Linked DNA regions of Homo sapiens: region 2 is linked to region 1. Evidence: fine-mapped QTL for protein levels in blood plasma. A gene starts in region 1. The other region holds a variant in brackets. All regions are shown on one strand. Distances are between the middles of the regions.

Region 1 (15,032 bases):
AAGTTAACCATTTTTATTCATCTACTTTTTGCATCAGGTTTTTCTCTTCACAAGGAACAAAGACCCTCTTGAGTTATCTAAGGCCATGGGGCTTGTTGTAAGGGTCCTTGTGGACTACAATGGAACCAAGCACCACCAGAAATCTTGGCAGCTTGGCACAGGGCCACTGTCTGGCCTCTCATGTTCATTCATGTGTGTCTCCTCCCGTTCCCCTATTCTCTTTCATTCCGCATTTCTATCTCATTCATCTCTCTAAAGTGACCACCTTGCTCTGCTCCCTCAAAGCTCCTGTTCTCTGTGGCCTTGGCTTGCACATGCACTTGGCCACAATGATCTCTCTTCTCCTTTCCCCACATCGTAACTTTCCAACTTAAGTTCTGGTTGCCAACTGGGTCATTCTGTCTTCCAAAGCAAATTCCCAAGAGTGAGGATTTGATAGGACCAGCTCATTTTTTTCATTCCAGCCTGTGGAGTGACTGAGGCTCAAGAGTGACCCAGCACGTTGGGTCAGGTGTTCACCTATGTCCCTCTTCATGCTGGGCATGTGAAATTGTCATTCAAAGAACATGCAGCTGGGAGCAACTGATCAGGCATTGTGATTGATAAATATCTGGTACATCTTAAGTGAACCGAATAGTTTTCATAGAACTATTCTCCCCACTTTCTGAGAGGGAATTTTCATTATCTCCCAGAATATTAACAATTCTACTAAATTTATTGTCATATAAAAATTGGGGGCATATATTCTAATGCTTTTTATCCACCTAATAAATACTGATATTAAATAAGATTGATTGTAAAAATGAACCCCATGGGAGTTTCTTCTGAATATCCCAGGTGGATACTGTCCCATTGAACACTGCTACCTTTTGGGTTCAATCCATAAGCCAAAACTGTAACTCATACCAAAATAAAGTCAAAGAGTATACTTTTTCTTGATGGGTAACCTATAGAGTCCCAGGTTCTGGGAAGCGGTTGGGAGTGGGGGTTGCTTGCACAGGCTCTGGAGCCAGCCTGCCTGGGATCAAGTCCTGGCTTCAACACTTCTGAGCTGTATGGTGTGGGGGGGCTTTTGTGACCCCGCTGCTCTTCACTTTTCTTGTATATAAAATGGCACCGCTAAGAGTATTTGTGAGACAGGCTATTGTGAGGATTTAAAGAATTAATCAACCTAAGATGTTTTGAACAGTATCTACTACAAGGTAAATACTCCACAGAATAGTTACATTGTCACAATTAATTCCATAACCTTTTGTTGAATACCAACTATATAGCTTAAGCTAGTTTCAGGCGGAGTTCTGTGAATTTTACAATCACAGTGGTCTTTTTATTAAGCCATTTTTAAAATTTTATTTTTTTAAATTGACAATAATTGTACATATAACAGACATGTTTCAATACATATAATGTATCATGGTATAGGGTAATTGCCATATTCATCATGTCAGACATCACTTCTTTGCTTTGGGAACATTTAATATCCTCTTTCTAGCTGTTTGAATCTATATGTTATTGATTGTAGACATCCTACACTGATACAGAACACCAGCATTTATTCCTCCTATCTAGCTGTAATTTTGTATCCTTTAAAAATCTCTCCCTATGGCTGCCTTCCCCCTACTTTTCCGAGCCTTCAGTCACCTCTGTTCTGCTTTTTACTTCTATGAGATCAACTCTTTTTTAGCTTCCACATATGAGCGAGAACATGCGAAAATACAGATGGATTTCCTAGTCGCTTTCTATCAGTCTATGTGGCCATAATTTTATTATAGAAAGAAATTAGACAAGTTGCTATGCCAAGCTCTTTACAGAATCACATTGGTAATTTTCTGTCATCTTCATATGTATTATTTCATGAATTTCCTATTATGAATATTTCCAACTGCCGGGATCAAATTGAGAACAACTGCTTGATTTTTACTGTCTTCCAGAATATTAGAGACTTAATTTAATTAATTCCAATGAAAGTTTCCTTAAGTCAATATAAAATATTTTACAAAGATCATTCTGTGAATCTTACAGTGATGTTGTTCTTTGCATTTCCCCCACTGCATCACTTCTGGGTGTAGTGACTTGGAGCATAAATATATTGGTATGAGAGTCTATACTGAAATAGACACAGCAGGCCTTCTTGGATCCAAGTTCAATAAAAAATGAAGTTTGGCATTGCTAGTGATCATCCTGAACTAAGCTGCAAAAATTCTGCTCTAAGGTTTTGTCAAACTAAATAGACTTATATTACTAAGTATACATATCAGATTCACTGCCTATGAGAGGCAGACTCTCATAACCTAGTGGTAAACATTTTGATTAGTGAGAAGTGTTTTCACATCTGCTTATTTGAAGCACAAGTGTTTTTCTCCTCCTCACAGAAAAATTAGGATAAGGCAAATATCATCAGCTCCATTCATTTCCACTTGCAGTTTCAGCTAGTATGTAAATACAAGGCTCGGAGGACCAGAAGATGTCTGAAATTAACACAGTATTATAACTGCATTGCCCAATGCTAGGGACTGATGGGAAATTGGCATTCCTAATAGAGCTGTGGTGAATATTCATTTTTCCATCTGGAAACTAAGTATGTGTGAATTTAGGAGATTAAAAACTGGTGTGACTTCAGCAGTATAACTATATAAACTTTATAGTCTTGAGAGTGAAATTCAAATCAAAAATGTGTTTCTGTAAAAGTATTGAATGAGAACTAGAACTGAAACTAATTAAGTCCGTTTGTCAGAAGTAACATAGGGCACAATTACATTTTAAAGAGAACACAGGTGGGGGATCCAAGACCATACTTTGATCACTATTTTAGAGACCATAGGAACTTGGAGAAGTTCTCTGCTCAATTCCTCCACAGGATTCCAATTTCAATAAGAGTTGCCAGGATCTCCTTAGAAATACAGAATATTGGAGAAATGGAAGGAAACAGTAACTGGAAGACAAACGTTATGCCATAAATAAAATCCTGTAGTTAGAGCTTGGAGTGAAAACCTTCTGGGGATCGACAGCTCATTCCTCTCTTAGAATTGCTCTTTAGAAATTAATGGGCTTGGCTTTGTATCTCCAACTGTTCTTCACAAATGAACCAAACTGGGAATCAGTTGGAGTCACTGAAGCTTAACACAACTCCAGCTATTGTTTACATGGCTCCCATGAAACCCCTGTGGCAAACTGATTAGATTTACAGTTCATTCGATAAGCCTGTCTGCTCATGGCACATAAGGCAGTGAACCTTTTCACAAAATGAAACTAGAGCTGGAGAGGGGGGAAAACACAAAATCTTTAATGAAGAGGGAGGCTAAGAGACTTGGGTAGAAGATCTTTTAAGTTTGTAGAAAGCCTCCCTTGTATTGGAGTTCGTAGGCTCCACATTGAATTGACACTTTGGGACTTGCCCTCCTGCCTACCAGAAACTCTACAGTGCCATTTTCAAATTCTTTCTGATCATAGGTATGTTTAACGCCAATAAGAACTAAGGATTGGAAAAGACTCTTTAAAGTAAAGATGAAGTGGGCCAGGGAGCACCGTGTGGATCCATGGAAGTGATCACCAACCACACGATGTCAGACAGAGCTGCTTTTGTTTCTAGCTATCTCCCATCCCCACCCTAAACCAGAGGCTTGGGGGAAGTGTGTAAAACCTATCCCAGTGGCACATGCCTTGGACCTATTATTGAGTGGTTGGGAATTAGTCATGGAGCCATAAAGTCATCACCCCCAAAACTCTTTTTAGTCCCTTTTTAGCCAGTATAACTGATCTCACTTCTCAAAAAGCATGACTCAATCACTTTGTAGACCCTGGCCTAGCACTGCAGACTTGCTCCCACTGTGACAATGGCAGAGGAAGTGGTCAGCTTCTGAATAGAAGCTGACACCCACCATCAGAAGAGTCCCTTGTGGGAATTTTACACCATCCATTGCTTCATCACAGACTGCCCTAAAACTTAGTGGCTTGAAGCAACAACCATTTTATAAATACTTCTTAATTCTGTGAGTCTGTGATTCAGGTAGGGCTTGGCTGGGTGGTTCTTCTGCTCCATTTAGTGTCAGCTGGGGATACTCGGTTATTCAGCTGGTGGGTAGGCAGGTTTGTAGATTCCAAGATAGCTTTACTTCCACAGTCTTGGCCTGGACAGCTAGAAGGATGGGCTCAGTTGGACCTCTCCCTTTCCATGTGGCCTCATATTCACTCCACCATGGAAGCTAGGCTTCTTACATAGTGGCTTAAGGTTCAATAATGAGTTCCCAAGAGTCCTAGGAATAAGACATAAGATTTCTTATATTTCAGTCCTGAAATTCCCAGGTCATCATGTCTGCTAATTTCTATTGGTCAAGAAAGTCACTAAGTCCAGTTCAGATTCAAGGGAAAGGGAAGTAGACCCCACTTCTTAATGAGAGGAGTATCAAAAAAATCTGTAGCCATCTTGAATCTGCCTCAAACACTTTCTTTTGACCTTAGAAAAATAATTCAGTATTCTATATCAAGTCATTTTTCACATATCTTACCCAAAAATGAAAAAGAAAATAGAAAAAAATACTCTTTAGAAAAGAAACCCAAATTAAAAAAAAAAAAGGCATATTCCTTATTCAAAAGATGCCATATTCTCTGCCAGGCTTGGTTTCTCTTAGAACATAGGCTCTAAATTTGGTTTTGTCGGTGCTCTTCTCCCCACCAACATGGCTTTTACTTCTTTTTTTTTTTTTTTTTTTTTTTTTTGAGACAGACTCTCACTCTGTCACCCAGGCTGGAGTGCAGTGGTGCGATCTCGGCTGACTGCAACTTCTACCTCCTGGGTTCAAGCAATTGTCATGCCTCAGCCTCCCAAGTAGCTGGGATTACAGGTGCCTACCACCACGCCTGGCTAATTTTTTGTATTTTTAGTAGAGATGGGGTTTCACCATGTTGGCCAGGCTGGTCTCAAACTCCTGACCTCAAGTGATCCGCCTGCCTCGGCCTCCCAAAGTGCTGGGATTACAGATGTGAGCCACGGCGCCTGGCCCATGGCTTTTAATTCTATCATGAACTCAGTACTTAATAATATTCATTAACACTTGAGAGATCCATTAAATGGAATATATGACTGGGAGTAATAACCTAGCTTTCAAATGGATAACTCTTGGCTGGAAATTTTACTGTCAAGCTTGAATAAATCACAGAGAAAATTGATGTTTAGGTAAAACAACACAGCCCATAAGTATTAAATTCTGGGACTCACACATTGAATGCTTCTTCCCATTCCTTGCATCATGGTCTGCCATCTCATACTATAACCATACTCCTTCACATATCTCCGATGTCTCCAGAATTCTATGTACACTATAGTTGTGGCTTTGAAGGACACCATATCATCCTTGCAGGTGTGAACAGAGGCCATTTCCTTCAGTCTTTTCATTTTCATTGCAATGAAAAGGCACATTCATAGTATTCTTCAAGCTCATAAACCTTAGCCATGTCTGCTATGATACTCAATGCATGCCTTCTCCCAAATATTTTCCTGAGAAGACCTTGCTGGCATTGAGCCTCTTACCATCTGGATATGTACAGTTGGAATAGGGAGAGGGCAGGGTGCAGAGACTGACCCAGTTATTTACCATTGGGTGGGTTGGGCAGTGGAGGGAGAAATGGTTAGAGGAGTCTATCATCTCAACCATTTCCTTTCTAGTTCATGTCACCATGTCTTTGTATGGTGACTAAAGGATGGGACACATTGAAGATGGTAGCTTTATGAGTATCTTGGCACAGTAGACCAAAGAGTGAAACAAATACATTTTCCAATTTATGGAATCTACCCCTCCCAGAACCCTGCTGCTTTGTTCAAGGGGCTTCTCAATTTGCAGTCATCATGGCCCCCTTTCCAATCTACACTTCTCTCCCCATTTTCCCTCCAACCGCCCCAAAGTCCTGCTCTAGGAATTTCCATTCTAGATTATGCAGCTCATCTTAACTTTTTCCTCGATATCTTTGGATTGTAGACAGCATTATAGCACCAGAGACCTTGAGTCCAAAATGGTGCCTTGCTAATCAGCTGACTTGATGCAGTTTTTCATTTCCATGAGAATTACTCATCTGGGTAGACAGCATGTACCCTTTGGATAAAGTACACTATTGGGTATGCTCCATTTTAAGAATGTAACACAAGGATGACACATTTTCTAAAAATAATAACAACAACAAAAAAATCCTTTCAACTTCAAAGAAGCCTTTTGGCATAAAAATGATGATTGGTAAAAACCCTTTGGTAACATACATGATTTTTTGGTAGCTTCTGTACTCTAGGGCCAGTGTTTGGCATCAGGGATAGAAAAATGACCAAGGCATGGTCCCTACTCTGAAGGAACTAAGGATTTAATAGTAGGCATCTATGTAGGCAAATAAATCACAGTGTCCCTCAGTGTGAGATAAGAGAAAGGGATATGCAGACTGTTGACTAGGAAGGGAGAGCTGGGGCAGATGGAAAGAGTGTCTACTTAATGCCCACCTTCCTCTTTGAATTTATCGTAAGTGTAACCAAACCTAGATTCTGCTACTTGCTTCCCAAAAGCCAAAACTTGAGAGGCAAGAGTTGGTGGGAGGAAAAGCAGGTTTATTCGGAGATCCAGTAAACAAAGAAGATGGTGGACTAGCATTCTAAAGTACCATATTAAGACAGTACAAATTTCAGGCTCTTTTTATGTTAAAGACAGAGGGAAGAAGAGAGGTTTGGGATCAAGAGGTGACCAACGACCGCAGACATCTGGACGCCAATGAGGGTCTGAGGAGGTTGGGAACAACTCTGTCCTTGGTCAGGTCACAACACTCCTATAAATCTTTAACAAAACATAGTTAATTGTTTACATACTTTCCCTTTAATCCCAGAGTTCGTTGCAAAAACTACATGATTGTTGTTTTTGCATATTTTCTCAGTGCTCCAAAATTATCCTAGCTTACGTGCAGGCTAAAGGCTCCTTAAACAAAAATGGAGTTTGCTATGTTAGTTCTTTTGCTGTTTCACTGTTACATAAGTGGCTGATGGCTGGAGTATAATCTATAGCTATAAATCCTTTTGATTAACATTTGAAAAGGTTTCAACTTTGGAGTATATTTTCAAAATACACATAACTCTCAAATTATTTTCCCTGCATTGGAATTATTTTAGAAATACAGATGAGAACTGTTTATAAGCACTAAAGACATTGCTAGCTGACTGTAGTCAGCACATAAAGTCTCAGAGAAATAGATGTATTTTGGTTATTTACAGAGTATAAATTAGGAAATTCTAAAAGCCCTCCAAAATCAAAGAGGTGACTGTCTCCCATACTCTTACCTCCTTTTCAACCAATGTGGCATTTACCCAACTGTTTCTGTAACCAACAGCAACCAGGGGTGGGTTGGCTACTTGGGGAAAGTAAACTTCTGGGGCAATGGATTGGAGGCTCTATTTCCTAGTAGGGCCTAAGGCTGAAAAAATTCACTGTGGCTTATTGGATTAAGTGGGGGCACAAATCCCCCTAAGTAGGCTTTCTGTGCTTTGCATCCTTCTGTAAGCAGGATGAACAAGTAGCATGTGTTTATGCCTGAACTTCCCAACCTAACTGACAACGTGTTACTGGTGTAACACGTTTTTTTCCCCACCAGAAAACACATTGGCTGAAGATCACACTTTACAAACTGCTACAGTTCCTTGTTTGGGAAGCAGGAGATTTGGTCTCCATGGAGAATTTCTCTGCCAAGGCTGAAGAAGGGTTCAATGGAGTGGTCTGGGTTATGAAATCAGAAGTCGGGAAATCCCAAATTTTAATTTGGTCAGAGAGACTGACATTCTTTTTAGGAAAAGTCCCTGCTTTAGTGTCTCCAGACATAAAATTAGGACACTGGCTTTTGCTTTGTGGAGATGCACTGACTTTAGGGTTTGAAAAGATTTTTGAACATGAAATGTGATATAAGTATCTGTGAACCCATTTTTCTCCTTTTTCACCAGGGAAAGTTCAGAAATATGTTGTATAATGCAGAAACGTTTGGCCCTTCACTTTTGGGCATGTGATCTGGGACAACAAAGCCATTGCAATAGGGACATTCTTGGCTATTAGGTGGTTCAGATTTCTACGTTCTTTTCCTCCTTTCTTTGTTATTTGTTCTATAGAGTAGTGTGTTCACAGGGCAGAATTTATTGCATTGCTTCAAATGTTTTGTTAATGTGCCATAAGAAGGGACCTGTTAAATATAGTGACTACTTTTCACCTTCCAATGACTTGCTTTCCAGATTCAAAAATGTTGAAGAAATTTTAAAGTTCAAGATTTGATTTCCCTATCAAGTGACATGTCCTCATAACTATCCTGTCAGCTTATTTTAAGTAGTATAAGCTGCTTTAATATTAGCAGCAAGATGTATTCAAGAAGATGAAGCTCCAAACAAAATAATGATAAGTTGGCTGTGATTTTGGATAATTCATAGTGCTAACTTTCTCTTTGGCTGAGCAGGTTGTGATAAGGACGTGTTCAGTAATGTCCCTGTGCTTTTGTCTCTTTATTCTCCCCAGGCCTCCTAGCTAGCTTGTCATCTGAACTGTTTGTCTCTTCTGAAGTTCCGGCGGACGCAGAGTTTAGGACCCACTCTTACTTCTCCAAATCCTGGCAAAAGACAGAAATGGTTCAGACCCAGAGTGAAGCACAAACTTGTTTCTATGCAGACCTTGGCATCAGGAAACTATCATATGACAGAGATTATAGATGGCTCTTTAACAACATGGGTTTGAACCACAGGGGTCCACTTACACATGGATTTTTTTAAAAAAAAAACTCTCAGATTGAAAATACAGTATTTGCGGGATGTGAACCTGGTGAATGTGGAGTACCGACTTTGTCTATATGTGGATTTTCAGGGCTGACTTCAGGATTTGAGTATGCATGGATTTTGGTTATGTGCAGGGGTCCTGGAACCAATCCCTTGTGTATACTGAGGGACGACTATATTTGCCAAGCTATAACGATAAGGAATGGTTTATGCTGACCATTTAAATGACGCAAATATGGGGCACAAGTGACCTCATTTGCATATTGCCTCTCCCTATGTTTAATCTCCATTATTTGAAGTCCTCTCTTGTTTTATTTTCTAGTATACTTTCTTCACCTACATTTTCACAGCTACTATTTTATTTCAGCGTGCATTTAATAGTAGATATTGTACTATATGCTTCACTTATATAATCTCACTTAATCCTTATAACAACCTGATGAGGTAAGAATTCTGGCTATTTTACAGATTAGAAAATTGAGTCCTAGGCCAGGGGAGGTGGCTCATGCCTGTAATCCCAGCACTTTGGGAGGCCAAGGCGGGCAGATCACGAGGTCGGGATTTCGAGACCAGCCTGACAAACATGGTGAAACCCCGTCTCTACTAAAAATACAAAAATTAGCTGGGCATGGTGGCATGTGCCTGTAATCCCAGCTGCTTAGGAGGCTGAGGCAGGAGAATCGCTTGAACCCGGGAGGCAGAGGTTGCAGTGAGCTGAGATTGCACCACTGCACTCCAGCCTGGGCGACAGAGCGAGATTCACTCTAAAAAAAACAAATTGAGTCCTAAAGAAGTTGGGTAACTTGCTCCAGGCCCTCAGCCGGGAAGAAGGTGAGGCTAAGCTGCCTTCCATGAGTGTTTGCCTTAATCTCACCTGATACACTCCACAGATCACTGGCTTAAGTCCTAACTCAAAATCAGCCTTTCCCCCCACCCCACCAACACAGGAGATATTTTTATAGAAAGCAATGAATTTTTTTCTTTAAAGAACTTAATTTTAAAATGTCTACCCCATGTTTGGTCTTTCAAGAGTGCATTGCGTGTGGCATGAGATGTACATAGCTTCATGTTTGTTTCTAATGAAGGTGGGGATGGAAAACCAAATTTGTCAGGTGGGGATTTCACCCCAGCCTTATGACTCAGTTTTAGATTTAACTTGATTCATTTAAGGTTGGAGTTTATTTCTGGCTGGCAAAATATGGCTTCCTGGCTTAGAAAAATTCCCTCAAAACAAACTTGAAAAAAGTTTGCCCACCTAAAATGGCAACGTGAAACACTCTACATTTTAATGAGCTCATTGTAAGTGAATTAGAAACATTCAAATGCAATTTACTTCAAAATAGATCTAGGTGTTAAAATAAGGAACAGCTGGCAGTATGGAGTCTCCTGATCCCAACCAAAGGCAGGTTTGCCCCTATTAAATGGTCTGTGACTTAGAGCGAATAAAATGTCACTTTTTTTTTTAAACACAAAAGCATTAAGTTTCAGTGTCGAAGAGAAAACTCTGAACACTAATATAAAAAGACAAATAAAAAAACAGTATGGGAAAACTCTGTTTCTTTCTCTGGAACAAAAAATCTGCCATTGAATAGTAGAATCCCTAGTCAGAACAGTTTATTAAGTTTAGTTCACGAAACTATATTGTGGTCAATGCATAGCTCATAAAAGCCGTATCTTGAAAGACTGTACACAGGTGGGAGCTCTGGTTTTGATGCAACATTCTAAGTGCTTTAGATAACATCAACTCTACTAATTCTTAAGAGAAAGCAACTACTGAGGGGTAGATGACATGTTGTTATTTCCGGTTTACAGCTGGGAAAACGGAGACATGGAGAGATTAAATGGCCTTGTGGCTAGCGTGGAGCAGAGGCAGGATCCGTAATAAGGAACTTGGGTTCCAGAGACCATGTGCTACCCACTCTCATGGATGGCCTCACATTAAAGGGCTCCAGGAAATATGTAAAACTGTTGGGATAATGTAACCACAGAAAGAGAATAAAGAGATGTTTTCATTAACTAGTTTCTTGAGACGGAGTCTTGCTCTGTTGCCCAGGCTGGAGTGCAGTGGTGCAATCTCGGCTCAATGCAACCTCTGCCTCCCGGGTTCAAGCGATTCTCCTGCCTCAGCATCCTGAGTAGCTGAAATTACGGCACCTCCACCACGCCCGGCTCATTTTTGTATTTTTAGTAGAGATGGGGTTTCGCCAAGTTGGCCAGGCTGGTCTCGAACTCCTGACTTCAGGTGATCTGCCTGCCTCAGCCTCCAGAAGTGCTGGGATTACAGGCATGAGCCACCACGTCCGGCCTAATAACTAGTTTTTATGTTGCATGAAAAAAGCAAATATATTCTCTGCTGTTAGTGATGATGAAGTCAATATAACAGTGAACATGATAACAAAATGATTAAAGTAGGTCTCAGGGAATGGAAAATATATTAGGTATGACATGGATTCTTCAGACTTCTCCATAAATGACCAATATTCTAAAATTATCTTGAAAGCTCTTCTACAGAGGGTGGGATATAGTACAAATAAATAATTTTATTTTGAAAAGTGTACTGGTAAAACATAAGAATTCAAAAGCTCTCACCTGAGCAAATGCCTCTATGCATAGCTTTCACTGCCTTTTAATTAAAAATGTTCAGTTTATAGAAGTTTCTTCTGTGATGTGTTATTTCGTTTTCTAATCGGCCCTTTTTTTTTTTTTTTAGACACGGTTCTGCCAGTTAACTGGATTTGTAGGGCCCTTCTTGCACTGTGCATGTCTTGTTTTCATAGGCATGTGTGCTAGCACACACACACACATGCCCCATGCCCTATATACTCAGCACACCTTTATCACCAAGCTATCTCTCTCCCTTTGGTTCCAGACAAGTATCTTCCTGTCCCAGATTTTGTTTTCCCCATTAAAACTGTGTACTCCCTCCCCAGGTCTTTAATTTTTAGGGCTCTGAATTCTTTTATTCCTTTGGCCCCAGAGATTGATGTGTCCTCAGTGGATCCAGAATGACCTCTAAACCTCCTTTTTGTAAGACACTTTTGTAAAACACCCAACTCTGTTTTACAATGGAAATAACAACTGAGTCACAAAACTTGATTCTTTTTTTTTTTTGAGTCAGAGTCTTGCTCTGTCACCTAGTCTGGAGTGCAGTGGTGCAATCTTGGCTTACTGCAACCTCTGTCTCCCCATTTCAAGTGAGTCTTGAGCCTTGGCCTCCCGAGTAGCTGGGATTAGAGGTGCCCATCATTAGACCCAGCTAATTTTTGTATTTTTAGTAGAGACGGGGTGGTGGGGTTGGGTGGGGGGGAGTCTCACCATTTTGGCCAGGCTGGTCTCGAACCCTTGACCTCAGGTGATCCTCCCACCTCGCCTCCCAAAGTGCCAGGATTATAGGCGTGAGCCACTGTGCCTGGCCAAAACTTGATGGTTATAGTCAGAAGGAGCTGACAATCTTCAAATAAATTATGTCAAGAGTGAGGGTTTGACTCAACTTCAAGTATCTTCGGCATCTATGTTGAGAGTGAGAGTTTGACTCAACTTCAAGTAGGTAGGAGACAGGTGGCAGGTAGGAGCACTGAGCTAATAAGTTTTCCATTTGCGATGGGCACTTGACATATTCCAGAACAAGACTCCCAGCCTTGTTTTTCTTTATCTGAACCTCTTCCCACACAAGCATAATTTGCTTCAGTAGTGCTATACATGTAGTTGTGATATTTAAATTTAATATTATTTAGAATTTCAATTTGAGCACAATCTGTGTTTGGGATAAAGTAAATAACTCTGGCCATTCATACATCATCCACTAAACACATCTTGGGAAGACAGGAATCAATGGTCCACAGAATTACTCTTAGAAGCAAGGGGTGATATTCAGAATAGTTAACAGCTGGTGTGACATGGGGATATCCAAGCAGAGGGAGCCCTTGCTGCATCAGGGCTTAAGGGCTTAAACTTTCATTTGCCAGGTTGTGAGGAAGTTGCTTAGTCCTAGGAAAATGGGCAGGGCAGGGATGGTTGCCTGTGAGGAACTAAGGGCAGCAGCTTTTATCAACCAATTCAGAATATTTCAGTAACCATTACAGCCAAATCACCAGCTCCTGGCTGAGTACACTCTGCAGTGAGGTTCATTATACTATGCCTATAATAGTCTGGACCCCATCTCTCTGGAATAGTACATATTTTACACGAAGGGAAAAGGCTAACTTGCAACTTATTTGCATGAAAAATCACGTTGCAAGTACTTCTTAGTTTACTAGATTGTCTCCAATAGTTTCTCAACCTTATCAAGATATATTTGTTAAAACTGTGTGCTCTCCAAAATCATCTACTGAATTTAAACCACTGCACCCCACTTTGGACTATAATTGACTGGAGTTACTGATTGGAAAGGAAGTGGTACACACCCCTAATATACTGACGGACTTACTCTGACAGCTGCTACCACCTGTGGGGACCCTTGATGATGTTCACGCAGCTTTTCTGAGTGGCACATGCTGTTCTCTTGAATACTCCTTGAGGTGAAGAAGAGGCCACCCCTACCCCTATGCACACACAGCTCCTGCTCTTTCCTGGGGCTGCACCCTGCTTGTATTTCCAATGCAGGGATGTCAGATTCCAAAGAGGGCTCCCCAAGGCATTCCAGAAGGCTTCAGGCCAGCACGTCCCAACCTTTTCATGCCATGGGACCCCTTTGGCAGGCTGCTGAAAACCATGGGGTTCTTCTCAGAATAAGGGTTTTAAATACATAAAAGAAACCACAAGAGGTTACAAAAAAAGCCAATAATATTGAAATGTAGCTAACAAAATGTTTTTAAAAATTTGTGCTAGAGCAATATATATGCTTCATTATTGACATATAATATCTGGCTGATTGTCTAATAACTACTGTTATTTGAGATACTTGCAACAACTGTGATGTGATGTAAAAACCTATGGTTTCTAGTGATTACTAAGTCATAAATACTTATCCTACTGCTACTGTAGTTTGTTGTCTACGTTCATAATGGCAAAACGTGCTAAATGTCAGAGGTTGGTGAAAATTAAGACGTAAATTTTTTCTCATCCAAGTTCACAGTACTCTTGAATTAATTACCTCTCCTCGGGTTAAGAACCCCTGCAGGATAAGGTTGCCCCTAGGGCCAACACCTCACTGGAGCCCCGCCTCATGTCCTGGAGGCAGGAGCCTTCATGCCACCTACACAGAACTCGGAGCTGTCTCTTGGCCCAGCAGTTCTCCCCACAACTAGTTCTGAAAGTCCGGGGCTAGGAAAGAACGGCATCGTCGCCTGAGCTCCTGGCGCCACTTTAAACAACCCATCCTTGACTTGCGTGACTTCTTCCACAAGCTCTCCTGGTCACCTGGGCAAAATCCTAGGTGATCTGGGGACAAGGCGGAACTTCGGTTTTCTGATCTGCAAAAAGAAACACCTACCTCATAGGACTGTTAGGATGAATTGAGGTAATGGCTGGGTTGTGTACATTATACAGCACTATCAAGGTGTGCGCTGTGATCATTTTTGAGGGTTGTTAGGTGTTTGAGGACCCAGAACAGTCTACACAGCTGTAGTCCCCAAGTGTTGGGCACGCCTTAAGCGCTCCATAAACACCTGTAGAAATGAATGAATGACGTATGCATCTGCACGTGGGCCCACATCTGCAAGAACAGGCTGCTCAGGCCATGAGGCCCGGTGCATCACCTGCACTTCTCTTTATAACGGGTAGTAAAGTCTCCCTCGCTCTGTGCTACTCGGCAACCACAATTCTGTCCACAGAGGGCGGCGCAGTGGGGCTGCTTCGCCGCGAGCTCGCCTCCGGGGCTCCCACGTCGTGGCTTCCGGGCAGGTACCGGGCAGCTGGAGACGCCAGAGCCGGCGGGTAAGGTGCGGGCGGTGCGCCGGGCCGCGGGCGCGCAAGGAGGGGCGAGAGGGTGGGGAGGGGCGGGGCCGGCGTCCTCGTCACTTGATAAAACGCCTGCGAGTCTCCAGAGAACAACGGGCTCATTCAGCGGTCGCGAGCTGCCCGCGAGGGGGAGCGGCCGGACGGAGAGCGCGACCCGTCCCGGGGGTGGGGCCGGGCGCAGCGGCGAGAGGAGGCGAAGGTGGCTGCGGTAGCAGCAGCGCGGCAGCCTCGGACCCAGCCCGGAGCGCAGGGCGGCCGCTGCAGGTCCCCGCTCCCCTCCCCGTGCGTCCGCCCATGGCCGCCGCCGGGCAGCTGTGCTTGCTCTACCTGTCGGCGGGGCTCCTGTCCCGGCTCGGCGCAGCCT
Region 2 (15,935 bases), 140 kb before region 1:
GCATCTGGGTGCTCCTGTATTGGGTGCATATATATTTAGGATAGTTAGCTCTTCTTGTTGAATTGATCCCTTTACCATTATGTAATGGCCTTTGTCTCTTTTGATCTTTGTTGGTTTAAAGTCTGTTTTATCAGAGACTAGGATTGCAACCCCTGCTTTTTTTTGCTTTCCATTTGTTTGATAGATCTTCCTGCATTCCTTTATTTTGAGCCTATGTGTATTTCTGCACATGAGATGGGTCTCCTGAGTATAGCACATTGATGGGTCTTGACTCTTTATCCAATTTGCCAGTCTGTGTCTTTTAATGGGGGCATTTAGCCCATTTACATTTAAGGTTAATATTGTTATGTTTGAATTTGATCCTGTCATTATGATGTTAGCTGGTTATTTTGCCCATTAATTAATGCAGTTTCTTAATAGTATTGATGTTCTTTACCATTTGGCATGTTTTTGCAGTGGCTGGTACTGGTTTTTCCCTTCCATGTTTAGTGCTTCCTTCAGGAGCTCTTGTAAGGCAGGCCTGGTGGTGACAAAATCTCTCAGCATTTGCTTGTCTGTAAAGGATTTTATTTCTCCTTCACTTATGAAGCTTAGTTTGGCTGGATATGAAATTCTGGGTTGAAAATTCTTTCCTTTCAGAACGTTGAATATTGGCCCCCACTCTCTTCTGGCTTGTGGGGTTACTGCTGGGAGATCTGCTGTTAGTCTGATGGGCTTCCCTTTTTAGGCAACCTGACCTTTCTGGCTGCCCTTAACATTTTTTCCTTCATCTCAACTTTGGTCAATCTGACAATTATGTGTCTTGGAGTTGCTCTTCTTGAGGAGTGTCTTTGTGGTGTTCTCTGTATTACCTGGATTTGAATGTTGGCCTGCCTTGCTAGGTTGGGGAAGTTCTCCTGGATAATACCCTGAAGAGTGTTTTCCAACTTGATTCCATTCTCCCCATCACTTTCAGGTACACCAATCAAATGTAGATTTGGTATTTTCACATAGTCCCATATTTCTTGGAGGCTTTGTTTATTTCTTTTTACTCTTTTTTTCTCTAATCTTGTCCTCTGACTTTATTTCATTAATTTGATCTTCAATCACTGATATCCTTTCTTCCATTTGATCAAATCAGCTATTGAAGCTTGTGCATGTGTCACGAAGTTCTCGTGCCATAGTTTTCAGCTCCATCAGGTCATTTAAGGTCTTCTTTACACTGTTTATTCTAGTTAGCCATTCATCTAACCTTTTTTGAAGATTTTTAGCTTCCTTGTTATGGGTTAAAATATGCTCCTTTAGCTCGGAGAAGTTTGTTATTACTGACCTCTGAAGCCTATTTCTGTCAACTCGTCATTTTCTGTCCAGCTTTGTTCTGTTGCTGGCGAGGAGCTGCAATCCTTTGGAAGAGAAGAGGCGTTCTGGTTTTTATAATTTTCAGCTTTTCTGCTCTGGCTTCTCCCCATCTTTGTGATTTTATCTACCTTTGGTCTTTGATGATAGTGACCTACAGATGGGGTTTTGGTGTGGCTGTCCTTTTTGTTGGTGTTGATGCTGTTCCTTTCTGTTAGTTTTCCTTCTAACAGTCAGGACTTTCAGCTGCAGGTCTGTTGGAGTTTGCTGGAGGTCCACTCCAGACCCTGTTTGCCTGGGTATCACCAGTGGAGGCTGCAGAATTGCAAATATTGCAGATCAGCAAATATTGCAGAACAGCAAATATTGCTGCCTGATTCTTCCTCTGGAAGCTTCATTCCAGAGGGGCACCCACCTGTATTAGGTGTCTGTCGGCCCCTACTGGGAGGTGTCTCCCAGTTAGGCTACATGGGGGTCAGGGACCCACTTGAGGAGGCAGTCTGTCCATTCTCAGAGCTCAAACACCTGTGCTGGGAGAACCACTGCTCTTTTCAGAGCTGTCAGACAGGGACGTTTAAGTCTGCAGAAGTTGTCTGCTGCCTTTTGTTCAGCTGTGCCCTGCCCACAGAAGTGGAGTCTATAGAGGCTGTAGGCCTTGCTGAGCTGTGGCGGGCTCTGCCGAGTTTGAGCTTCCTGGCCACTTTGTTTACCTACTCAAGCCTCAGCAGTGGTGGATGCCCCTCCCCCCACCAGGCTGCAGCCTCACAGGTTGATCTCAGAGTGCTGCACTAGCAGTGAGCAAGGCTCCGTGGATGTGGGACTTGCCAAGCCAGGCACGGGAGAGAATCTCCTGGTCTGCTGGTTGCTAAGACCATGGGAAAAGCCCAGTATTTGTGGGAGTGTACCAATTTTCCAGGTGTAGTCTGTCACGGCTTCCCTTGACTAGGAAAGGGAAATCCCCCAACCCCTGTGCTTCCCGGGTGAGGTGACGCCCCACACTGCTTCTGCTTGCCCTCCGTGGGCTGCACCCACTGTCCAACCAGTCTCAGTGAGATGAACCAGTTACCTCAGTTGGAAATGCAGAAATCACTCATCTTCTGTGTTGATCATGCTGGGAGCTGCAGACCTGAGCTGCTCCTATTCAGCCATCTGGGAATGTTTATATATGGAGCAGGGAAGGCCGGTCATCCCCACCCTAATCTTATGATGCAAATGGGCTTTCCACTTGGCTGGTGCCACCTTGTCTGCTCCTTACTGTACATGTGGCTGGCAAAGAGAAGTTAGAGCCACCATTTTGATCATGCCTAGTCCCAGATAGCATTTTTCTTCTATTGGCACAACCACGGGCATTCACTTGTGCAAGCTTCCAGTTTCCTTGTTTATGTCTACAGCTCAATTTTACAGGCTGCTCTTTGTTAGAAAAGAAAATGATTTGGGGGCACTTTTCATTAAAAGGAAAACCTTACTGAGGACTTCCTTACCCTCACTATCTGCCTAAATAATTTCTTTTTAACTCCTATATCATGATGACTTAATCACTTCCCAGAAGCCCTTCTCTTAACACCACCAAATGGGGATTACATTTCCACCCAAGAATTTTGGGGCAGATTCAAACAATAGCAATAAATGTGAATATCAAGTACATATTTGTAGAGAAAATATTTTTAAAATGTATTTTATAAAGTGTTTTTCAAGATACCTTTTTAAGATTTATTTTTAATTTTTATAGATTTAGTGAGTATAATGGCAGATTTCTTTTTTTTCTTTTTTCTTTTTTTTTTTTTTTTCCCTGAGACAGAGTCTCGCTCTGTTGCCCAGGCTGGAGTGCAGTGGCGCGATCTTGGCTCACTGCAAACTCCTCCTCCCGGGTTGCAGTGATTCTCCTGCCTCAGCGTCCAGAGTACCTGGGACTACAGGCGTATGCCACCATGCCCAGCAATTTTTGTATTTTTAGTAGAGACGGGGTTTCACCGTGTTAGCCAGGATGATCTCCTGACCTTGTGATCTGCCCGCCTTGGCCTCCCAAAGTGCTGGGATTACAGGCCTGAGCCACCGCACCCAGCTAGATTTCTTACATGTGCAGATTTCTTACATTTCTCCTGCCCTCCTCCTTTTTGGAGTCTCCAGTGTCTATTATTCCACTCATGTGGAATAATAATACATGTGCAGGATGTGTAGGTTTGTTACATAGGTAAACGTGTGCCATGGTGGTTTGTGCACCTATCAACCCATCACCTAGGTATTAAGCACCCTGCATGCATTAGCTGTTTATCCTGATGCTCCCTCTCCCCCAACCCCTGATAGGCCCCAGTATGTGGTGTTTCCCTCCCTGTGTCCATATGTTCTCATTGTTTAGCTCTCACTTATAAGTGAGAATATGAGTATATACCACATTTTTAAAATTCGGTCCTCCATTGGTGGATACTTAGATTGATTCCATATCTTTACTATTGTGAATAGTGCTGTGATAAACATACAAGTGCAGAATCTTTTTGATATAATGATATTTCCCCCTTTGGGTATATACCCAGTATTGGGATTGCTGAATAGAATAGTGGTTCTATTTTTAGTTCTTTGAGAAGTCTCCGTACTGTTTTACATAAAGGTTGTACTAATTTACATTCCCACAAAGAGAGTAAAAGTTCCTATTTCTCTGCATCTTTACCAACATCTGTTGTTTTTTCAACTTCTTAATGATAGTCATTCTGACTGGTGTAATATGGTATCTTATTGTGGTTTTAATTTGCATTTCTCTGATGATTAGCGATGTTGAGCATTTCTTCATGTTTGTTGGCTGCTTATATGCCTTCTTTTGAAAAATGTTCATGTCCTCTGCCCACCTTTTAGTGGTGCTATTTGTTTTTTCTTGTTGAGTTCCTTGTAGATTCTGGATATTAGCCCTTTGTTGGATGCATAGTTTGCAAATATTTTTTCCCATTTTGTAGGTTGTCTGTTTATTCTGCTGATTGCTTCTTTTGCTGTGCGGAAGCTTTTTAATTTAATTAAGTCTCATTTGCCTATTTTTGTTTTTGTTGTGTTTGCTTTTGAGGACTTAGTCATAAATTCTTTGCCTAGAGCCAATGTCCAGAAGAGTTTTTCCTAAGCTTTTGTCTGGGAATTTTAGTTTTGGGCCTTAAATTCTTCTAGAGTTAATTTTTGTCTATGGTGAGAGGTATGGGTCCGGTTTCATTCTTCTGCATATGGCTATCCAATCTTCCTAGCAACATCTGTTGAATAGGGTGTCCTTTTTCCAGTGTATATTTTTGTTGACTTTGTCGAAGATCAGTTGGTTGTAGGTATGTGGCTTTATTTCTGGGTTCTCTGTTCTGTTCCATTGATCTATGTGTCTATTCTTATACCAGTACCATGCTGTTTTGGTTACTATAACCTTGTAATATAATTTGAAATCAGGTAATTTGATGCCTCCAGCTTTACTCCTTTTTCTTAGGATTGCTTAGGAGCTATTTGAGTTCTTTTTTGTTTCCATATGAATATGAGGATTCCTTTTTCTTTCTTTTTTTTTTTTTTTGAGACGGAGTCTCACTCTCTTGCCCAGGCTGGAGTGTAGTGGTGCAATCTCAGCTCACTGCAAGCTCAGCCTCCCGAGTTCATGCCATTCTCCTGCCTCAGCCTCCTGAGTAGCTGGGACTACAGGCGCCCACCACCACGCCCAGCTAATTCTTTTTGTATTTTTAGTAGAGACGGGGTTTCACCATGTTAGCCAGGATGGTCTCAATCTCCTGACCTCGTGATCTGCCTGTCTCGGCCTCCCAAAGTGCTGGGATTACAGGCGTGAGCCACCGCGCCCGGCTGAGGATTCTTTTTTCTAATTCTGTGAAAAATGATGTTGGTAATTTGTTAGGGATTGCATTGAATCTGTAGATTGCTTTGGACAGTATGGTCACTTTAACAATGATTTCAAGATATCTTTAGCTTTAAAAATGTATTAAGCATGATAACTATAGTTAATAATAATGAATTGTATTTTTCAAAATTGCTAAGACAGTAGATTTTAAATGTTCCCACCATAAAAAAATGCTAAGCAGATGAGGTGATGGAGATGCTAATTAGTTTGATTTACTCATTCCATAATGTATACATATATCAAAACATTGCATTGTACCCCATGAATATATATATAATTTGTCAATTAAAAATAAAAATTTAAATATGTATTGAATGTTTCCATCAAATTTCATATGCCTTAAATAAAGGAGAACTGTGCCTCTGAAGAGTCTGGCAGGTGGCCCCTTGGAGGAGGCCAGCTTCAGAGCTGTCTCCTCAAAGAAGACGTGGATGGGGTAGTTCATTTGTTTTTGAACACAGAATGGATACAGCTGTAGGAGGGGCCTTTATCAACAACCAGTCCCACTCTGCAGCAGTTAATTGCCACTTCCTGTCTAGAGAGTGCAGCACAATAGACTGAGCCCATCTGCTGTTTGCATCCCCCATGCCACCCACATGGGCATTAAGGTGGTGGAGGTCTAACAAGAAAGACTGATAGCGAGTCTGCCAGTGGGAGACTGGTCCATGGGTCTCTGTTAGCCCCAGGAATGGTTTCCACAGGTCAGGCTGACCTTCTGTGGCTGCCCTGCAAAGGGCCACACCTGTGCCTGCAAATACAGCTGCTGGCGTCTTCACATGGCTCAGCTCCCTGACCTGTAAACCTCTAACCGGAATGTTCTTTGGTGGTTAGGTCTGATGTTTCTGTTACAGGAAAAGGTTCCCGATCCAGACCCCAAGAGAGGGTTCTTGGATCTTGTGCAAGAGAGAATTCAGGGCGAGTCTGCAGTGCAAAGGGAAAGCAAGTTTATTAAGAAAGTAAAAGAATAAAAGAATGGCTATTCCATAGACATAGCAGCCTCGAGAGCTGCTGGTTGCCCATTTTTATGGTTATTTCTTGATGATATGCTACACAAGGGATGGATTATTCATGCCTCCCCTATTTAGACCACATAGGGCTCCTGACGTTGCTATGGCATTTTTTAAACTGTCATGGCGCTGGTGGGAGTGTAACAGTGAGGCTGCCCAGAGGTCACTCTCGTCACTATTTTGGTTTTGGTGGGTTTTGGCCAGCTCCTTAACTGCAACCTGTTTTATCAGCAAGGTCTTCATGACCTGTACTTTGTGCTGACCTCCTATCTCATCCTGTGACTTAGAATGCCTTAACCACCTGGGAATGCAGCCCAGTAGGTGTCAGCCTCACTTTACCCAGCTCCTATTAAAGATGGAGTTGTTCTGGTTCACATGCCTCTGACATTTCCACAGGCTGCTTTGTGTAGACTTTTAAAGAAAAAACAACCCACAAACCTATCTAAAAACAGTTGAACTGATGCAAGTTCTAAAAATGACTGAAAAATAAGCTTTATGGGGTAGGAGCCCTGTCCAAAGCAGTGCTTTCAGGGGCCATGTGGGAAATCCACACCCACGCAGTTAGCTAGTTGCATCTCTTTACCCACATTAGATGGCGATTTTAATTTGTTTTTAACTTAGCAAGAATTTGTTCAGTGATGATTCACTTTCACCAGCCTCCATGTCAGAGAAGGAAGACAGGTCATGTTCTCAAATTGTCCTTCCTTTTCACTCCTTCATAAAAATCCTGTTGTCCCCTTCCCTTTCTTCCTTGCTCAGCCATGTCCTCGCTCCCTCCCAAGCCTTCAGGAGTCTTTGTATCTGCAGAGAAATGGGGAGCTCAAATTAGTTAGGCAGGTCAAAAGAGGCAGAAAGAGGAACAGGGGTGGGCAGAGTTTCCACAAGTGGCTTTGCACGTCCCTGAGCTGCACCTTGCACCAGCAATCCCCTACCTATGCTTCACTAGCAATGACAGCGGGTCAGTGCAAAATAATCCAGGAACCACAGGCTGCCTGGGGGCTGCTGCTGCCTCTTGCTCAAATGAACATTATTCTCTGCTGGGAGCGGCGAGTCTACAAGCATGGGTGAAAACATCATGTCTCGGATTCAGAATCTGAGAAGGAGCAAGAAAGGAAGTCATCACAGACACAGAAATATCGGGAACCTGAACGAACTTATGTAGTGGACATTGGAGCATTCTTTCTTTTGGTGCTGGCATTCCCAGTGTTAGAAGGGACAGTATTCAGCCAACACATATTTATCAGGTAGTAGCTATGTGTCAGGCTTCTGTGCTAGCTGCTGAGGTGCTGTGAGTGACAGTCCTGCTTTCACAAAGCTCATAGTTGAGAGCAGTAGTCTCCAAACATTAGTCATTTTACATCCCTATAGGAAAAACATTGAGCTGAACTACTCTGTTTTTTATTTATAAATTATGTAATATATTGCTATGTTATGCACATCAAGTAAAATGATTTGTGTACATTACAAAATGAACAGGCAAAATAAATTAATCCAGAGGAGTTACAAATGTATATATCTATATAAGTTTCTAATATTTTCTTCTCACCTTCCAATAACTTATTTT[A/G]CACAAGTTCTGGGATGCAGGCACCCACTGTAGAGATGACAGATGGTATTAAGAGTGTGATCTAGTGTGAGATTTTCTGGGTTCTGATGTTGGCTCCAGCCCATACTTTTTGTGTGGCCTAGGATTTGTTTCTTAAGTGCTCGGTCTAAGTTTCTCCATGTGTAAAATAGGTTTTATAATAATACTTTCGTTAGGGTTTTAGTGAAGATGGAATGAGGTGATCCATGTAAAGTGCTTAGAAGTCTTCCTGGCATTTGGAAAGAGTGCAATAAATGTTATTATTTTGATTATTACAGTCTCTTCAGAGAGAAAATCACTAACCAACTAAGTATTTAATTTCAACTGTGATGAGTACCAAGCAGGGCTAGTCTAGGATGCCAGGAGGGTGTATTGGGAAGACTTAACCCAGTCAGTTTTGAGCTGTGTTTGGAGTTCAGGAGGGAGCCAGGGTTGGAGCAGGGGCAGAACATTCCCAGCTGAGAAACAGCACCTGCGAAGGCTGAGGCAGGAGAGAACTTAACTCCTTGGGGGAGAAGACGAGGGCCCAGTAAGAGGGGAAGAACACTAACAGGTCCAATAGGAGAAGCAGGCTGGCTGGAGACCATGCAGGTCTTCGTGGGCATTGTATCCATCAAGGATCTGTTACCAAAACCAAAACCCATTTGCAGTCGTTTCAGCAGAAAAAGGAGTTTATTAGAGGATATGAAGATACTTTCAAAATTTCTAGAGGGCCAGAAAGTCAGGCTTGTAGGCCAGCAGGTCAGAACAAGGCTCAAACCAACCACACCCTGGGAGTGAGTCAGAAAGGGTCTCTGCAGCTGCCTCCAAGTCTAGACCCCCTCAGCACAGCTCATGCCATTGTTGCCCCTAGGATCTGGACACACTACTGCCACCCTTTCTAGCAAATGGATTCTGCACAGTTGGCTTGCTCATGGCCTCAATTCCAAATGAAGCTGTTTGTTAGACTATCTGATTGGCAGAGCCTGGGTCACATGGTGAGGTCTAGCTGCAAGGGAATCAGGGAAAGTCAGTTTTCTGGTTTCAGCTGTGGGGAGGTAAGAACCTCTAGGGTGGGAAAGTCCCCAAATATGGGAATGATGTCAAGCATTTTGGGCTTAACTGCTTTCACATCATCACATGGTCTGCTGTGGTCAGGAAGGCTGGAGAGGGGCAGAGAGGGGCAATCATCTTTGTAGAAATAAAAAAGAATAAACAAGCCTCAAATAACCAAACCCCAAACCCAACCATTTGGGAAATTAAGAAATGCTACCTCTTGAAAACTTTGTCCATTTATTTGCAATAAGTCTAACAAACCCTCTCAAGAGGTGGTGCTCAAGGGAGCTGTGCAGTGGGTTTGGATGAATGTGCAACCAACGCTGAACAAACATCCCTATTAAAGGGCGTGTTGTTCCAGGTTACAGTTTCTCTCAAGCTAAGGGCAGATCCTTTCTCTCAAAGACACAAACTGGAAAGCCCTGACTCAGGTGCCCAAATTAGGTTTGTGGGGTGGTGGGTCAAGGATTGGAAGGACCCAACAGGACAGAAGTATGAGATGGAAGCATTTTGGCATATCCAGAGGGAGATGGGTTAAGGAAGCAAGATGAAGGTCGGGCAGAGAAGCTGCTTTCTTAAGAAAAAGCTGACCGGGCACAGTGGCTCATGCCTGTAATCCCAGCACTTTGGGAGGCCGAGGTGGGCGGATCCCCTGAGGTCAAGAGTTTGAGACCAGCCTGACCAACATGGAGAAACCTTGTCTCTACTAAAAATACAAAATTAGTAGGGCGTGGTGGTGTATGCCTGTAATCCCAGCTACTTGGGAGGCTGAGGCAAGAGAATTGCTTGAACCTGGGAGGTGGAGGTTGCGGTGAGCTGAGACTGCGCCATTGCACTCCAGCCTGGGCAACAAGAGCAAAATTCTGTCTCAGGAAAAAAAAAAAAAAAAAAAAAAGAAAAAGCTGCATTTTTTCTTAAAGCAACTCCTAATGAGATCATGATTTTCATTGATACAAGAAGCTGGTTGAGTTGGCAGAGCGTTTTTTTGTATTAATGGAAACAAATTACAGCTTAATTCAGATAATAAATAATGCACTTCTAAACACAAAGCAAAATGTATTAAACAAATGGCTGTGGAATAGAAGGTCAAAATGAAACTGTGGTAAGGTGATTTCTCTGCAGCTCAATATTTTCTGTTTATAGTCTGACTTGGAGCCAAAAATAGGATTCTCATTCAGTTGTATTATTAAAAATAAAACGATCTAGTAAGTTAAAAATGGAAGTCTGATGAATCCTCTAGTATTATGTATATAATATAGGCATGTCAAGAGAGAAAATATTAACTAATTATTTTAATGATTTAATAAAAACCAGAATTTCTTAACTGATTATCTAGCAAGTTAAAAACATTGCACACCACTTAAACGTAACAAACTTTTTCTTATCCACATACCTACACACGCACCACCTGACATCACTTGACTATGTTTTTGGTATCAGCCTCCCTCTGAGACTTGTACTAATTTTATTTCAGTGCTTTTCTTCTACAACGGTGGTTCTTAAACTTTTGGGGAGCTCATAAATCCCTTTAGTATTTGACTGTCTCCCTTAAGAATTGCAGTCTCATCTTACTCCTGCAACAAATTTCAAGCAGTTTCGTGGACCGCCAATTAAACTTCTGCCTTAAACCTCAGCTTTCTCCCCATAAATCATGGCAAAGGGAGACAGGGAGCTCAGGCTGGTGTCGGTGATGACATCTGCAAGGATGGAAAGTCCCCACTGGGACTGCTTGTATGTAGTCCCCTGAAATACTGGATTCAGTGGTGCCAGCTTAATGGCCAGGAGAAGTTTTGTACCAGGAACTAACCGATTAGCGTTTTTTTTTTTTTTTTTTTTTTTTTGAAACAGGGTCTGGTTCTGTCATCCATGCTGGAGTACAGTGTACAGTCTTGGCTCACTGCAGCTTTGGCCCCCTGGGCTCAAGCGATCCTCCCACCTCAGCCTCCCGACTAGCTGGGACTGCAGGCATGCGCCACCAAGCCCAGCTAATTTTTGTATTTTTTGCAGAGACAAGATTTGCCACATTGTCCAGGCTGGTCTCAAATGCCTAAGCTCAAGCGATCTACCCACCTCGGCCTCCCAAAGTGCTGGGATTATAGGCCTGAGCCACTGCACTGGCCTGATTAGTTTTTAATAACTATAGTGTGCTAGGTAGAATGGAGGTGGAAATGGCTACAGCACTGCTGCCTTCTGGTTGCCTGGGACCGTCTGTGTCTGCCCCACCTCCATAACAAAACAGACCCTGCCAGCACCACTACAACGCCTTCCCCCCAGGAATCCTGCGGTGTTAGTGCTTTTGAAATATACATTCTTGTTAAGTTCTTAATGATGAAGAATAGCTTCCTCATTGAGTTTCTACTTCTAAGTATACATATACATTTTGAGAGGAAGGAGCTTTTATGTTTTAACTCAAAGGGTGTCTAATGGCAAAGTCCTCTCTGATTGGTCTGGGCACGGGGGACAGCAATTGGGAGCAGAGTTTGGGGATGGGTCCTTTCTAAAATCCCTAAAACTCCTGAACAGAAGATAGTCATTTAATTGCAAAATTACACATAAGGATGAAAATGAAATACCTTTTTGGAGGATTAACAGGAAATATAAATTTCTGTAAGGAGGTAGTGGAAGTTCTTTTCCAAAGAGGTGTTGTGGTAAGGCTTCAAGGTTTCAGATAAAAAGTCTGGTTCTAATCCTGATTCTGCATTCTACTAATTCAGTGGAGATAGAGGAACTTTAGGGCTCCTCAAAAAGTTCAGGCCTCACTTTGTGGCTTTAAGTTTTGAATATTGCCAATGTAGCCATGGCAGTAATTTTGGGAAAATTTCCAACTTCCTGAGCCCAGTTTCCTCATCTGTAAAATGACACACCTGCCTCCCAGTGTTGTTATGTGGAATTAAGGAAATAATACCTGCTATGTATTTAATCAGGTCTAAGGTTCTTATTTCCACCCATACATTAGAAAGGTCTCTGATATTGGGATGGCATCCAGGGGTCTAGACAACCCCAGTTTTATGGGGCCTGAACTCTATATTATTCAGGGACCTTTATAAAAAAGAGAAAATAATACGTGCAAAATTAGGTAAGAACATGAATATTTGTTTAAATGGGAAAATCACAACAAACCACAAATTTTAAAAAGGTGATATAAATCACAAACAACATAAAATACCATAATATTTGTAAAAATTAACTGCCTGGCCCACTTCTGTTATACTTCTTTGCCCTGCATTTTTGGAGGGGAGTGGGCTGTATGACAATGAATTCGTTATGTCTGTTTTCTATAGAGAGAATAGACAGTTCAGTCTTCCTTCTCAATGGTTGACGAAAATTTATTTTTTACTATCAACAGTAAAATGTGTGTTTTCCAGCTTCACAACTGTTTTTGGTAATGTCATATAAATCTTGAGAGTTTTTTTTGTCAAATTTGGGGAAAACCTCTATGAAGTTTCTTTCCTATATGAACTATGAGATTTGGGAAAATTTTCCACAGACCAAATTCTGGCTCACACACTTCACACCTTGTTTATTTTCTGCTGCCCAGGCCATATGCTGCTGGCGAGTGTGGTGGGATGTATTTATATTGGATACAGCCTGGAGCCCTGCACTGGAGCTTCTTACTGCCAGGAGAGCTAGTGTGGTGGAGGGGAGAAGCGGTGAAGCCATTTCTATCCCAGCATGCCCAGCAGTAAGTTAACTGCACAGACCACATACAAACGTCCCACTGAACCCAGACTAAATGTATCCCCAGCTCAACTTCCCCTTTAATAGGATCCCCAAGTTGCCCATAGCCACTCCAGTGCCACCCACATAAGGGGAAGTGTGACAGAGGGGAAGTCAGAGTGGAAAGAGACAGTGGTCTAATTGATTGCAGTTAAAATATCTTTTGCAAATTTTACAAAAATATATGGCCACGTGAACACACTGCTGGCCCCTCTCCAAGAACATTGGAAGGGCCCATGCAAATGAAGGGCCCTGAGGCTGAAACTCTCTTAGCTTCCCAGTAAATACACCCTGGATGGCATCTTTCAATTAATCGGCAGTAGGTTTGCTTTCCTGCTGGGCGTGTTACAGTTGGTGGCAACTTAGATTTGGTATCATATATGTAAAGCACCCCATATGGTGCCTGGCACACACTGGAGGCTCACTAAGTGTTCCTTCCTCCCTTCCCTTAGTGAAAAATCAGCAAACAGAGCTCCATCCCTGGCAGGGGACTATGTCCTTCAAGTGTGTTATTGAAGAATCAGCCTTGTAGAAGTTGATATTCCATTAGTTTGCCTATAAAATTTTTAAATTGCAGTTTTTGAATTTATGGATCTTAGTTCAAGGTCAATAAAAAGTGATTGATGGGTAACCAGCGTGTGCCCAGGGACAGAAGATGTCCTCCTGTTGCTTTGTCAGTGGTCGATGATAATGTACTCGTTTCCAGCCAACCCCTAAAAAGGCAAACCCATCGCTAAGAAACAGAAGAAAAAAGAACAAAATGGACTACACTGTATTAAAGACACCTGAGTTCTGTAGAGGAGAGTTTTCCCAGAATCAGCCCAACACTGCCCTATCACCTACCTGAAGGGCATGTGCCAGACAGTCTGAGCTCATCAGATTCAGGACATGAGGAAAGTTATCTTGGTTTTCCTTTCTACTCTCCCTTCTTCCCTTCACTCTTTCCTTTCCTCCATCTTGTCCACATTTTCTAGACTGCTTACTGTCACTTTCTGAAACAAGAAAAAGATTCCACTTTTCATTGCTTATTAATGCTAAATGACTACCCATTCCCTCGAAGCTATTAATATATATATAAAGAAGTAGGGCATGGAGTGCTGAAATGCAACTGTGTGTCACTTAACAATGTAGATATGTTCTATGAAGTGCATTGTCAGGCGATTTCTTTGTGCAAACATCATAGAGTGTACTTGCATAGCTCTAGATGGTACTGCCTACTATACACCTGGGCTGTGTGGTATAGCCTATTGCTCCTAGGCTATAAAACTGTACAGCATGTTACTGTACTGAATATACCATAGGCAGTTGTAACACAATGATCAGTATTTGTGTATCTAAACATAGAGAAGGTTATGGTATAAAAGATAAAAAATGATATACTTGTAAGGACACTTACCATAAGTGGAGCTTACAGGACTGGAAGTTGCTCTGGGTGAGTCAGTGAGTAAGTGGTGAGTGATTGTGAGGGCCTGGGACATTACTGTACATTACTGTAGACTTTATAAACACAGCACACTCAGGCTACACTAAATTCATTTTACTTTTTTTGAGACAGTCTCACTCTGTCATTCAGGCTGGAGTGCAGTGGCATGATCTTCGCTCACTGCAACCTCTGCCTCCTGGGTTCAAGTGATTCTCCTGCCTCAGCCTCCCTAGTAGCTGGGCTTACAGTTGCCCACCACCATGCCTGGCTAATTTTTGTATTTTTAGTAGAAATGAGCTTTCACCATGTTGGCCAGGCTGGTCTCAAACTCTTGACCTCAAGTGATCCGCCTGCCTTGGCCTCCCAAAGTGCTGGGATTAGAGGCGTGAGCCACTGTGCCTGGCTTAAATTTATTTTAAAACTCTTCTTTCTTCAATAATAAATTAACCTTAGCTTACTGTAACTTTTTCACTTTATAAGCTTTTTAATGTTTTTAACTTCTTTTGGAATAACACTTAGCTTTAAACACAAAGGCATTATACAGCTATGCAAAAATATTTTCTTTATATCCTTATTCTATACATTTTTTTCATTAAATTTTATTATTATTATTTTTACTTTTAAACTTTTTTGTTAAAAACTAAGACAACTACACACACATTAGCCCGGGCTTAATCATCGGGGTCAGGATCATCAATATGTCATCAGGGGATAGGAATTTTCCAGCTCTATTCTAATCCTATGGCATCACCATCATACATGCAGTCTGTTGTTGCCTGATGTCACTGTGTGGCACATGACTGCAGGGGGTGTGGGAAGCCCATTTCTGAGTCAGTTAGAAGGCATATATATTTTCTTCCTTTGCCGTCACTTTACGTTTGTAATTCTGAGGCTCTCTACACGGTTCACTTGGGACTGTATGTTAAGGCTGCTGTTAACTATAAAACAGGTTAAACTGTATTTCAGAGTAGGCATAATTAATGAGGGTGTTATTTCAGGAACAATGATAGGGATTGTGAATAGTCAAGATTCATTCTAGAATGAGCAAGAAATTTGCTGGAAAAAAGAGGTGTAATGAAAAAGGAAGCTTCTTTCTATTTCTGATGAGGAGCTTGGTATGTCTGTAGTTTGATTTTGTAACAATTGTTTTCCCTGAAGTAATTTGGATGCTGCATTAGTCTGATTATTATGATTTCCTGTTTAGAACCCAGATACCTTCTCGATATGTCCCCAATAGCATATTTCTGGAAATGACTTCAACCAATTACATTAGCTCTCATTCCCTTGGTTTCTATGTGGTTGACCAGACAGGAATCAGGCTGCCTGAGTGTGCAATCCAGATAGCAAGAGGCAGTCGGTAGAGAGAGTGTGAAATTGCCCTGAGATACTGTGTGGTCTGCAGGCGGGTCCAAGTGAAGGAATGTGATGCAGCTGAGGCCTCGGGGGTGGGGCCGGGGGGCATATTTTTGATGTCTGAAATATCTTGACCAACTGGCCTTTCAGGGATAATTTTGATGACCATGTTTCATCTGGTGCCGAGTCTACTTCTGGTGCTTGACTCATGAAGGTATCAGTGATGACAAGGATAATGAAATTTATCTTCAAACCTACTCCCCTTAAATGTAGTAGATGTAAGCACTGGGACAAATCTGAAAAGAGTCTTCAGCATCTCCTTAAGGTTACTACTATTATGGATAATAGTGCTGTATCATTTACAAAACCATAGCCATATTGTGCAGCAGGTATTATTATTCCTGTTTTACAGATGTGTAAACTGAGGCACAGAGAGGTTCAGGGATATACTAATGTTGCCTACCGAGTGAGCAGTGGAGGTGGGATTTGACCCCAGTTGCCTGAATCCAAATCATCCCGTTCCCATCTTCTCCCCTAATGATGTCATGCCCCATGCTGCATCGGTGGAGGGGTTTTATGGGAGAGTGACAGGAGCCTTCAGCTCCTTCTGTGGTACCC

Which allele goes with the higher level. Alleles are on the strand shown, and positions count from the first base shown. The strength of an association depends on the size of the effect and on how common the allele is.
For the plasma level of the protein whose gene starts at base 14,760 in region 1, allele A in region 2 goes with a lower level than allele G (moderate association).

Evidence for each region. PIP is the posterior inclusion probability: the model's chance that the variant is causal. The UK Biobank Pharma Proteomics Project read protein levels with antibody pairs (Olink). The fine-mapping took linkage between variants from a reference panel, not from the people measured, so its PIPs are less certain.
Region 2: its variant is fine-mapped to the plasma level of the ITGA6 protein (UK Biobank, PIP above 0.99).

What each region holds. Positions count from the first base shown.
Region 1 is chr2:172,412,827-172,427,858 of GRCh38, forward strand. It overlaps ITGA6 (integrin subunit alpha 6), which reads left to right and starts at 14,760. Exons shown (of 26, transcript NM_000210.4): 1 at 14,760-15,032. The coding sequence starts at 14,963. RefSeq lists an enhancer at 2,834-3,335 and a silencer at 14,708-14,787.
Region 2 is chr2:172,268,375-172,284,309 of GRCh38, forward strand. It overlaps LOC107985960 (a long non-coding RNA gene), which reads left to right. Exons shown (of 6, transcript XR_001739773.3): 2 at 12,363-12,506. Among named protein-coding and RNA genes, the nearest start is that of ITGA6, 150 kb to the right of the region's middle. RefSeq lists an enhancer at 1,573-2,146. The variant A/G (reference allele first, on the strand shown) is at 7,772.